Regions from separate parts of the Homo sapiens genome. Here all the other regions are reported to be linked to region 1. The links are microRNA targets in miRTarBase. Many come from high-throughput screens and were not tested one by one. Region 1 holds a microRNA gene; each other region holds the end of a gene's coding sequence.

Region 1 (4,149 bases):
AGGAAAACGGGGGCAGGGAGAAGAGGAACTGTAACTCCCAGTTTCCTTCCCCTTGCACCCAGAAACAGGTTCTCTGAGCCCCTCTCCCCATCCCATGGAGGGTGGGGATGGGTCTTACGCACCCAGACCGTGTTCCTCCAGGGAGAATGTGCTACGAAACCTAGCGGATAAGGCCTTTGACCGGCCCATCTGCGAGGCCCTCCTGGACCAGAGGTTCTTCAATGGCATTGGCAACTATCTGCGGGCAGAGATCCTGTACCGGTCAGCAAGCAGGCATGGGCATGGGGACTGCGGTGGGCCAGGTGTGCCCACATTCCCCACTGCCTAGCATGGCTTGCCTTGCCCCCACTACAGGCTGAAGATCCCCCCCTTTGAGAAGGCCCGCTCGGTCCTGGAGGCCCTGCAGCAGCACAGGCCGGTAAGCCCAGAGAGGGATGGAGCACACGTGCTGGCACACTGGTGTCCACATGGGCCGGCAAGGAGATGGGTGGGGTCAGGTGTCCCCAGCTTAGCTCAACAACAGGGGTGGGGAGGGGATGAACTGCCCAAAGTCTGACCAAGCTCAGAGAGAAGGTCAGCTGCCTTTACATGGCCCTGCTGACAGACAGGTCCTGCCCCTGCCCCTTCCTCAGAGCCCGGAGCTGACCCTGAGCCAGAAGATAAGGACCAAGCTGCAGAATCCAGACCTGCTGGAGCTATGTCACTCAGTGCCCAAGGAAGTGGTCCAGTTGGGTGAGGCCAAAGATGGCAGCAACCTCTGCTTCAGCAAATGATTGTGTAACCCTGGGGCACTTGTCCCTCTCTGGACCTGATTCACCGATTTGGAAGTTTGTAGCCCTAGCTGATACTCAATGGACTAGGCCTCCTCACTTGTCAATAGTGTTTCCAGGCTGGGCGCAGTGGCTCATGCCTGTAATCCCAGCACTTCGGGAGGCCGAGTGGGGTGGCTCACCTGAGGTCAGGAGTTCGAGACCATCCTGGCCAACATGGTGAAACCCCATCTCTACTAAAAATGCAAAAAATTAGCCAGGTGTGGTGGTGGGCACCTGTAATCTCAGCTACTCGGGAGGATGAGGCAGGAAAATCGCTTAAACCCAGGAGGTGGAGGTTGCAGTTGAGCTGAGATCGTGCCATTGCACTCCAGCCTGGGCAACAAGAGCAAAACTCCATCTCAAAAAAAAAAAAAACAAAAAAACAGTGTTTCCTCCAAGCTGCCCATGAGACAGGCAGGACAAGGATTCTTTTATATATTTATACACACACACACACACACACACACACGCACGTTTATATATATTTTTGGTAGAGATAGGATCTTGCCATGTTGCCTGGACTAGCCTCAAACTGGGCTCAAGTGATCCTCCCACATCTGCCTCTAAGTAGCTAGGACTACAGGCTCACACCACCACACCGGGCTAATTGTTAAAAATTTTTTTTGTAGAGACAGGGTCTCCCTATGTTGCCCAGGCTGGTATTGAACTCCTGGCCCCTAGGGATTCTCCCATCTAAGCTTCCCAAAGTGTCGGGATTACAGGTGTGGCCACTGCACAGGGCCAGGACAAGGATTCTTAATCCCACTCCAGGATGGGAAACCCATGGCCGAGTGGGAAGAAACCAGCTGAGGTCACATCACCAGAGGAGGGAGAGTGTGGCCCCTGACTCAGTCCATCAGCTTGTGTAGCTGAGGTCTGGGCCAGGTCTAACCAGGCTCCCCACTCCTCCCAACCTGAGCCTGCCCTCTGATCTCTGCCTGTTCCTCTGTCCCACAGGGGGCAAAGGCTACGGGTCAGAGAGCGGGGAGGAGGACTTTGCTGCCTTTCGAGCCTGGCTGCGCTGCTATGGCATGCCAGGCATGAGCTCCCTGCAGGACCGGCATGGCCGTACCATCTGGTTCCAGGTTGGGCCCTACTGTTCACACAGGCAGAGACCCCAGGAGGCTGATGGGTGGAAACGTGGGGTCACAATAACTGGGGTGGTGATGCTCAGGGTCTGTCTAGACCCTCCAAGGACCACACTGTTCCTGAGGGTCACACCCCTCCCCTCCCATGCGTCCCAGGGTTGCAGCTAGTGGAAGTAGCCCAAGGCAGGTAGCCCAAGTGAAAGTAGCCAAGGGCAGAGCAGCTTTGCTGATGTGGACTCTAACATGGGGGATGTCCTAGAGGCTTCCTAAGGGAGAAGCTACACTGATCTGGATGGGTGTGTGTGAGTCCTGCCTCTCCAAGGAATACCGCCCCTGTGCCAACCCAGGCTGATTCCTGAATTATCCCCATCCCATTTTAGGGGGATCCTGGACCGTTGGCACCCAAAGGTAAGCTACTCCTAATGTAATAGGCTAAGAGAGCAGAAAGGACTTCACGCCTGCAAGGGCTACAGCACCCTTCTCCACCCTATCCCCCTGCAACCCTGGGAGTCACCCCTGGGCAGGATAGGACCCTCCAACTCCAACACCAGTGTCCTGCAGGGCGCAAGTCCCGCAAAAAGAAATCCAAGGCCACACAGCTGAGTCCTGAGGACAGAGTGGAGGTATGGCTGCCTGCTCCCGCCTCCTCCCCTGCACTCTGCAGCCCTGGCTGCCCCTCCCAGGCAGCTGCCTTACCCTAAGAGGGCGGGGGGAGTGGTGGGCCCTAACCAACCTCTGAACTGCTTTCTGAGCCCCTCAGGGACCCGTGTCTCCTCCATCCAGGACGCTTTGCCTCCAAGCAAGGCCCCTTCCAGGACACGAAGGGCAAAGAGAGACCTTCCTAAGAGGACTGCAACCCAGCGGCCTGAGGGGACCAGCCTCCAGCAGGACCCAGAAGCTCCCACAGTGCCCAAGAAGGGGAGGAGGAAGGGGCGACAGGCAGCCTCTGGTGGGCTTTCCTCATCACTCCCAGAAACTGGCTCTACAGGAGAGGATGGGATGGTGGCCTAGGAGCGCGTGTACAAAGGTGGGAGAAAGGCTGCCATGGCAGCCCCTGGAGTCTTAGCTGACCATCTTGCCTGTTCTTCCCCCAGGCCACTGCAGACCCCGGAAGGTCAAGGCTGACATCCCATCCTTGGAACCAGAGGGGACCTCAGCCTCTTAGCAGGAGGCTCTCCTTGCTTGCACTCACCCTTTCTTATTGTCTTGCCCTGCATCTGGGGGTCTGAATTTTTGGGAGCAGGCAATATCTGAAGGTGCAAACAGGCCCTACGGCTGTTCCCTGCACAACTCTCATGGTTTTAATTGTACCCCATCTTCCACATCTTTAAAGCTCATGTGAAAAATGCTGCATTTTTAATAAACTGATACATTTGAACTTCTTGGCACCTCTTGGTCTGAGATGGCCAGGTAGGAAGGGCCTGCTGTCCGGTCCTGGTGACAGAAGGCCCAGCTCCTCACAAGGCAAACTGAGCCCCCATCCCAGTCCTCAAGGCTCTGACTCTATCAGAGGACAGTTTGCCTCTGCAAGGACAGCCCCTCAGAGGTGGTACAAAGACCCTGGCCCCAGGCAGCCCAGGAGCCAGAGCTCCTCCAGTCCAGATTCTCCAGGGTCCAGGGCTGCCCCCTCATCCTGGCAGGAGCCAGGCAAAACCCACCCTTCGGCCCCTCCCCAGCCCCAGGCCCAGGCCCTTTACCTGCTGGCACAGGGGAGGGGCTTCTCAACTCATGGTCTCTTCACTGGCTTTTGGTGGCTCGAGGTCCCCAGTCTCTCCTGTGGGGGCTGCAACCCAGACCCTGCACGCACAGGTACCTTAGGATCTTGCCCCTACCCACCAAATACCTGGGAAGCCATCCCACCCCAGACTTCCCACCCCCACCCCAAGCGTGAGGATGGGCCCTAAGGGGACTGAGCAGCAGGGTTCCCGATCCAAGGATTTATTCCACAAGAAAAGACTGATCCCTGCTTTAGGCTGGGGAAGCAGAAATTAGGAGTCCCCAGAGCCTTCTACAAACAAAACCCCAGCCCCAGGGACTCAGTGTGGCGGAGGCTGAAGCACGAGCAACAGGGACAGCACTTGGAAGGGAGAAAAGGTGAGCTTCAGGCGGTTGTCCCGAAGGGTCAAGTGGCCAGCAGGGTCTGGTCGCTCCAAGAGATCGCAGCTGGAGAACAGGAGGGGCCATGAAGGCTCTGCGAGGGCGAGACTCGACCCCCGCCCCAATCCCACACCGCCACTCACAGGATGGCC
Region 2 (4,000 bases), not on the chromosome of region 1:
GATGACTCAGTTTTCTGGAGGTGCTCAAGACTGTTTCTCTTGGGGATTCTATGGTGAGTGCAGGTGCAAGAGGACAAAGTGTAATGACTCTCTTCCCCCACCTCATGGGGAGGCTTGGGGGCTGGTTCCCCTGTTTATTCCCTATTTCTCTGGATTTTAGCCTACACAACATCCTCAGTACACTATGAAACAATCCCTGAGAATTCAGGAGGGCCACAGTCGCAAAAACCTCAAAGTGCCCTGTGCAGGTTCTCTCTGCTTTCAGAAAGACAAATAACTATGGGATCCTGAAGGAGAGCGTTCTCAGCCTGGTTTGAAGAGTCCCGGTCTCCCCTAGGTCCTTTAGCTTCCTGTTTTAACTGCCTGCCTCAATGCCCAGGCAGCTACTAACAATTGCTGTATAACATCCACAGAACAGACCAAAGGTGGTGGAAAAAACTTACCAAGGGAAGGGGGAGTACAAAGGTTCAGGGAGGCAGAATGGGGAGCAATTCGATCTTGATGTCACCAACCCTTCACAAACACCAAGAATACGCCTAAAGACATTAAAGTAATTGAGCGGTCCAAGGCTCTATTCTAAATTTGCACCCTATAGAGCCCTTATTTTCTAAGGTTTTAGGATACTTAACAAATTTTATAAAATGTAGGTCTTTAAAAAAGCCTAAATGAGCTTTCAAAGCAGAAATAGAATGAAACTTGTTCTCTAATCACAATGTAGCAAAACCAAAAATTAAGAGGAAAATGGCAACATTGTATATCTCTTAAGTCAAAGAGGAATTATAATGAAAACAACAACCATTTTGAAATCATCAATAAGAACATTACATATAAAAGCTATGAAGTATGTCCAAAGCCATAAAGAGAAGAAATCTATAGCTTTAAATGCTTTTATCATTAAACTACAAAAATGAGAATATAATACGGGGATATTTATTGAAAGCTTACAGTGTGTAGGGCCAGAGCAAAATATATTTCATTTAATCTTCATAGTACTTTTGAGGTAGGTACTGTAATTTCCCCTTTATAATAGCTAGGAGGTAGGTACTGTATTTTGCCCTTATCTTTTTGAAATGCTCAGAAGTACAATTAGACATAGAAGTATAATTATCCATGCAATGTTCTAAATATGTTATCTGTTTCCAAGAACTATTTCATGTGTTTCTTGATTCAATACCAGAAATATTTATTCTTATATATAGGGCACTGTAACAAAGAATATTAGACATTCTCTAACTTGTAAAAATCTAGTCAAGTATATTTGATATAAATGAGAGGGAGGATGCAACTCATATTATGATTGCAACTAACCCTACTAGCCAAAAATGGACTGTATTAAATGCTAAAAATGATGCATAATCACAGTGCCATGGTTGCAGAGAGAAAAGCGATTCCAACTTGGGATGAGGACAGAGTCAATTGCCATGCTTGTTGCCACTGTTCAGGGAAGAAGCTCTAAGTTGTTCAAATAATTAATTAGTGCAAGTGAAGCAGGAAGAGCACATACATTTCCGCTTTATTCAAATATTGCATAAATACAGAGCAGTTGGGCACATCCATTCTAAGGCACTGTTCTGGTTTGAATGCAATTCCACAAGAGAGAAAAGAGAAGCCATTACATTCTGTATTTTTCATCTCTACATTCAGACTCCTCCTATATTATATGTTTATTGCTACTGGGATATCAATTTGAGCCCCAGACTTATAGCAGCATCATATGTTGACCTGGATGACAAGAATTAAAGATACATCCTGGGTCTAGCAATTGGTATAATTGGCACTTAATTACAAACTCTCTTGCATTATTCTCCACCTGTTTCCCAACTCTTGTTTAACTAAAAATATTATAAAATCTTTATGAGCCTGATCCATGAATTATATTTCTTTACTAGCTTCCACTAAGCCTAGAACAGGACTAGTTAGGCACATAGTAGATACCCCCCAAAGTATTTATATCACTCTCGAGAACTTCAATGGAATAAAGACATATACTTTTCCTAATTGTAGTTCAAGGAAAGGATGACTGAACATCTTCATAAAGGGAAAATGCCTGAATGTCTTATTTCTTGTATTTTATAACAAGGAACTAGGCTCAATGAATATTTTCATGTTTTAACAGGTTTAACTGACAATGAGAAGTCTTCCCTTGCTTTGGGAATTTGAGCTGTTACCATGATTACATGAGAACATTTATATAAGTAGCAGTGTGTGTGTGTATGTAATTATAAGTAAAATTCAAAGAGGTTGAGAATCACTGGGAAACTTATACATTATCTGAATTAGTGATCCTCAGCTTCTTAAAATGATATGTGTATATACATATGTGTGTGCGTGTGTGTGTAAATGTAAGTAAAATTCAAAGAGATTGAGAATCACTAGGAAACTTAAAAATTATCTGAATTAATGATCCTCACCCCCTTAAAGTAGTATGTGTGTGTGTCTCTGTGTGTGTTACACAAATTCATATATATTTTAAGAATTTTTCATAACACCCTTAAAACAACTGGAGATAACTAGGCTTGGGAGCAACATAACTATACTGACAGCTATAGAAATATCTGTTTAAGGCAGTGTGTTCCAAGAGACATTTGCAGAATATTAGTTCTGTAGCTTATTATTGGGTATATGAAAAAGGTTTTGGGGTCAAATAAGTTTGGAAAACATTGAGCCAAAAGAGGTGCTTTTTCTCTCCTTTCTAGAGGACCTCTCAGAGATTCTCATATGCTGATGTGTACTATGAACCTAAGAAGGCGAAACAGCAGGAAGTAATTCCCAAATATATTTGCAGAATATCTAGCAGAACTAAGTATTCTATGACACATACATAGGGAGATGCTGAATTAAAGAATGGGTAAAATTTTAAAAAGCACTAAAAGACACATGATTGAATACCAAAGGAGAGTGAAATACCAAAGGAGAGCAAAAGACCCTGGTTCTTCAGTCAATCAAAATTAAATTAGATTCTGCTTGTATAATTTCAAGCTTAAAATCTTAATTTCCTTAAACATAACAAATTTCAGTGGAAATAACCCAGTTCTTACCAGGCAAATGACATCCCCTTCATCCTTGTGTTCCTGACACATTTTTATTGTTTGACAAAATTCACTGTCTCCTTTCTTGCCACATGGGACACATCTAAAGCTTTGAATGAATATAATCATCTTTAATAATGACAGCAGAATAACTATAGTACTGCTATAATCAATACGTCTGATAGACAGGTTTATCCACTATATTGACCCTACCTCTAAAAGGATTGTCATAATTTATATGCTTTATGTTTACACCTATGATACAGTTGCCTTGGAACACAAAATTTTTCATTGTAATTAAAAAAAGAAGAGTTGTGCAGACAGAAGAAATCAAATCTAAGAAAATCACAGGAGTAGATAAATACTCTAGAATTCATATACCTTGGAAGATGGGTTTTAAAACTAGTAAAAAAAAAAGCTGTCTATGTTCTTATAAGCTCAAACAAAAGCTTCCAAGACAAACAGCCTGCTGCAGGTTAAGATTTTTTTTGAGTTAGTGTCAATTTGTGTAAGACCTGTTTCCCTTAGCAATTCTTAAATAAGTCCTCTAAAGTGAGTGACCTGGTGCATAATAAGGCCGGCTCTCTGTCTGAAGCTTTTAGAACAATGAGTACACTTGTATGGCTTCTCCCCTGTGTGGATTCTTAAATGAATAACGAGGCTTGGTCTCTGTCTAAAACTTTTCCCACAATAATTACATTTAAAAGGTCTCTCTTCAGTATGCGTTCTCTGGTGCAAAGTAAGAGCTGTCAGTCGACTAAAACTTTTCCCACAATTATGACATCTATGAGGTTTTTCACCTGTATGAGTTTTCAGATGTCTTTTAAGACTTGATCCATGACAAAAACTTTTCCCACACTCAAGACATTTATATGTTTCTTCTTCAGAATGGGTTCTCTGGTGCCCTATAAGATGTGACCGCCGAGTGAATCGCTTTTTACATACAGTGCATTCATAGGGTCTCTCCCCTG
Region 3 (4,000 bases), not on the chromosome of region 1:
GATTAGGAGGAGACAGGGAAGGAGCTGAGAGTTAAAGCCAGCTTACTGGGGCTGCATCCATAAAGAGGTACCTTGTTGGTAAACACCCAAACTTCCATTTTTAGCTGGTTCTAGAACTCTTCACTGTATATGGCTGTCCTACAGCCAGGGCTGGGTCACTTGACCCTGCCCAACTGCCACACCCCAACTTAGAGGGATTGGGGGCAGGGGTTCTCAGTGGAAAGTGAGATACTCCTAGTTTCCATGGCTATAAAACCACTACACACCACTCAGAGTCCACCGAAAAGGGTGTCTGTCATTGGTGGAGTCTTACAACTTCAAAGAGGACATTTCTTTTGATTTACGTGTGACAAAATAAGACCATCGGTTATTTTATTCCAGTGATCTCCCTGTCTGAGAAGCCAACACGAATTTAAAAGACAATGGTTGGTATTGCTGGGCAGGCATGGTGGCTCACGCCTGTAATCCCAGCACTTTGGGAGGCCGAGGTGGGCGGATCACCTGAGGTCGGGAATCCAAGACCAGCCTGACCAACATGGAGATACCCTGTCTCTACCAAAAATACAAAATTAGCTGGGTGTGGTGGCGCATGCCTGTAATCCCAGCTACTTGGGAGGCTGAGGCAGGAGAATCACTTGGACCCGGGAGGCAGAGGTTGCAGTGAGGTGAGATCGCGCCATTGCACTCCAGCCTGGGTGACAAGAGCAAAATTCCATCTCAAAAAAAAAAAAGGCAATGGTTGGTATTTGGTATTTAAGGTTTTAAAATTGCATTTTTGTTTCTACCACCTGTAAGCTACAAAAATTAAATGGGTTTCTTTCGCCATCTGCAGCTATCACTTGTTCAAGTGAAAACTAGACACACTTACTTTAATAAGCCCAGTTGAAGCCACATTCTCTACTCATCTATTTATTGCTTAAGGCTATTGAGAGGTGGTTTTCCAGCCAGGGCTAAAGAAAGCCACTTTGGGAGTTCGGTTTCAGACGAGGAAGAAAATATGCACTCAAAGGCATTAAAAACAAAACAAAAAAACCCCCCAGAAACAACAACAAAAAAATATCAGTGAGAAGCTGCTTTTTGCAGTTCATATTAAAAGCCAGACCCTGCTTCCCTAAAACCACGCAATGCAAGCTGCTGTCCTTAGCAGCTGCTACTCCTGGCCCGAGAAATGAAGGCGTCCCAGATCACATGTCACCAGCTTAGGCGCTTCTCACACCCTCGATAACAGGTGTGCGGGGCGCAGTCCGAGGAGCAGCCCCCAAGGGACTGCACCCGAGGACGGAGAACGGATCTCACCAGTGAAGCCTCAGTGGCAAATGTTTTGATCATTTGATGTTGGAATTTGTCAAATCCTAGCTAGAGATAAGTAAATTTCCTCATCATACGCTGAGGTTAAGAAAAACATTCTGATAAGAGTGAGATTCTCGTTCAAGACTGGAGAACCCAGGTGGTCCTTGTTCTCCTACCCACAGGGGGCCAGGTCTCAAGTTTCCTATTCTCAAGCGAGCTTTCAGACCCACTGGGCCAGTTCTTTCAGATGGCAACAAATATCTGATGAATGAATGAATAAATAAATACAAGTGACCAGAAGAGTTAGTGAACACAAAGACTAATATTAGTTTCCTCTAAAAAAAATTTTTTTAAAGAACAAGGAATACATTGGACAAAAAAGGATGACAATCCCTGATCTGAAATAGCTTTAAATAGATTCTCTCTCCCTTTTAAAAATGAAACACCTTAAAACCACAACGGTTTGGGTTTTTAAACTCTCCCCTTCCCCTTAATAAAAAAGGCTGGAAAAATATACAAAAACCTACCCTTTGGGTGTAAACTATCTGATAGTCTCTCTCTCTCTCTGTCTCATGGAGAATCAATACATAATAGTGCATTAGGTAGACAGGATAGTAGACATCTGCAGACGAGATGAGCAATTTCAGCCATGAGGCAGAGGACTGAATAACCCTGAAGCGGTGCTTCCGTGGGGGAAATGGGATAGGAAAGGTATCATTCAAATGGAGCTCAGTGCAGACCTCGTAGGTCCAGTCACATGCCCCCAGAAAGGCAGCCCAAGGAAGCAGCAGCCAAGGGGTGTGGCTGCCCCCACACAGATGCAGGCGCACTGCACATGGGTGTGCTGCTGGGTCAGTGGAGAGCACTCTCCCCCAGCCCCATCGGACACCAAGGCCACAAAAGTACATTCCTTCTGGGTGTCTGTCCCCACACACCCCGTCGAGCCATTTCTGCAGCCAGTGGCAGGGGGCCCAAAATATTTTTGCAAAGGACTCCAAAGCCAGGACAACCAAAGGGGACAACCTCCTCTTCCCTGCCCGGAGGGTCAGAGTTCAGGTCGAGGGCCCCAAGAACATGCCCTTACTATGACCTGGACCTCAGCCAAGACCAGGGCTGTGAACTCTGTCATTTCACTTGGGACCATGACCTGAGGGGACAGACTGAGGACACTGGGCAGAATCGTCCCCATCACCCTGGAGCTTTCATAGCAGCGGCTTGACCTGGCTCCGCAGGGCTGTGGATCATGTACACCCTATTCCTAGCTGCTGCCATCACCTGCCTAAAGGCGTGGGCTGGAGAGGCATGGCGTCTGAGACCTGAAATCGTGTACATTGGGATTTGCCACGAGAAAGAAAGAGGCAGTTTTGCACTGCTCCTCAGAGCCTGTACCCCTATCAACTAGCTTTACTTCAAGTTTCTGGTTCATTTTCTAAGGCAGGTGAAGCCCTGAGCTTTTCAAAGGCCTGAGCTCCCTTCAGGGAGACAACAGTATCTACACATGATGTGGTTCATTTAATGCAGCAGTGATTTTTTTTTCTTTTTCAGCAAAAGTTGGCAGTTAGGGTTCTTTAAAATATATATTTAAATAACTTTTTACATTTACATACAATATCTTAAAAAAAAACAAAGCAGAGAACTCAATCCCACACCTCGGAACCCCAAGCACACACACTTTACAAAACAGAACAACATGTTATCAAAAGAGGCAAAGGACTCGGAGAATTTTGTCTGTTGATTTGTTAATGGGGTAGGGGGTGGTTTTGCCACAGGGGGCTCACATTTTGGGTTGACAAGGAGGGCTCTCTTTATTACCACTTTTGTGTGTTTGTCAAAGCTAAAAAAATTTTTTGTTTTTGTTTTTTGAAAGAAGTCAGTTTGGAGTCTCCATACAGTTCCCAATTTCCAGGTAAGAGTTCCTCCTGAGCTCAGGCTCCCGGGCTGCTGCTGTCTGCTGAGTGAGATCTCGGTCCTGGGAAAGAGAGAGAACAATCATCAGGGGAGGGAGCTGGCACCACACATGGGACCAGGCAAGGGACTCAGGTGGCCCTGTCCCCAGCATGTGGCAGGCCTGTGTATGCTAAAGGGCTGAAGCAGGTTCCTGTTCCCAGAGGGGCTCCATTTGTGCTGAGAGCACAGGTACCTCCTGGAGAGCCAGCCTCTCACTTGGATGTAGAGAGCTTTCTAGAAGCCCTCAGGTAGCACGAAAGCCCAATATATTAAAGATGTTAACTGGGTGCCCGGTGTGCGTCAGGCCTTGGGAAAAGCAGCAGAGAGGACTCCCTCACAGAGATTACGAACCTTGAGACAAAGTAATTTAGCAATAGGATGACAGAAGTGAACAGAAGGTGTGTAGGTGATCTCAGAGGGGGCTGGAGTGTTACCTAACCTAAGATCTGGAGGAGAAAAGTAGCGGACAGGTCTGGGGGCTGGAATGAGCTTGGCACATGGGAAGAACGGGACAGGGGCCACAGGAGGTGAAAGCAGGAAGCAAGGAGAGTGAACCAGGAGCTCATCAGATGGGTTGGCAGGAGCTGGATCACACAGAACTGAGTGAGATGCTAACATTTATTATTATTTTTGAGACAGGGTCTTGCTGTGTTGCCTAGGCTGAAGTGCAGTGGTGAGATCATGACTACAGCCTCAATCTCTTGGGCTCAGCCTCCTGGGTATCTGGGACTAATGGCATGTGTCACCGTGCCCAGCTAATTAA

The links. Region 1 holds the annotated microRNA hsa-miR-631 (AGACCUGGCCCAGACCUCAGC, at 1,681-1,701, opposite strand). A microRNA usually pairs through its seed, bases 2 to 8, with sites in the 3' UTR of a target mRNA and lowers its output. Matches are read on the target gene's strand: a 7mer-m8 pairs with bases 2 to 8, a 7mer-A1 pairs with bases 2 to 7 and ends in A, and an 8mer does both.
Region 2: the mRNA of ZNF449 is a reported target of hsa-miR-631. Seed matches in the 3' UTR shown: 8mer at 1,719-1,726.
Region 3: miRTarBase lists ZNRF3 as a target of hsa-miR-631. Seed matches in the 3' UTR shown: 8mer at 2,507-2,514, 7mer-A1 at 2,434-2,440 and 8mer at 2,377-2,384.

The regions. Positions count from the first base shown.
Region 1 is chr15:75,351,970-75,356,118 of GRCh38, forward strand. It overlaps MIR631 (microRNA 631), which reads right to left and starts at 1,716; the gene lies at 1,642-1,716. NEIL1 (nei like DNA glycosylase 1) reads left to right here. Exons shown (of 10, transcript NM_024608.4): 3 at 142-261; 4 at 355-418; 5 at 633-732; 6 at 1,770-1,897; 7 at 2,281-2,308; 8 at 2,462-2,523; 9 at 2,684-2,849; 10 at 2,995-4,149. The coding sequence ends at 3,065. MAN2C1 (mannosidase alpha class 2C member 1) reads right to left here. Exons shown (of 26, transcript NM_006715.4): 25 at 4,141-4,149; 26 at 3,823-4,063. The coding sequence ends at 3,937.
Region 2 is chrX:135,360,640-135,364,639 of GRCh38, reverse strand. It overlaps ZNF449 (zinc finger protein 449), which reads right to left. Exons shown (of 5, transcript NM_152695.6): 5 at 1,227-4,000. The coding sequence ends at 3,564. Among named protein-coding and RNA genes, the nearest start is that of ZNF449, 18 kb to the right of the region's middle.
Region 3 is chr22:29,052,838-29,056,837 of GRCh38, reverse strand. ZNRF3 (zinc and ring finger 3) reads right to left here. Exons shown (of 9, transcript NM_001206998.2): 9 at 1-3,259. The coding sequence ends at 3,216. Among named protein-coding and RNA genes, the nearest start is that of C22orf31, 7.0 kb to the left of the region's middle. RefSeq lists a silencer at 1,343-1,637.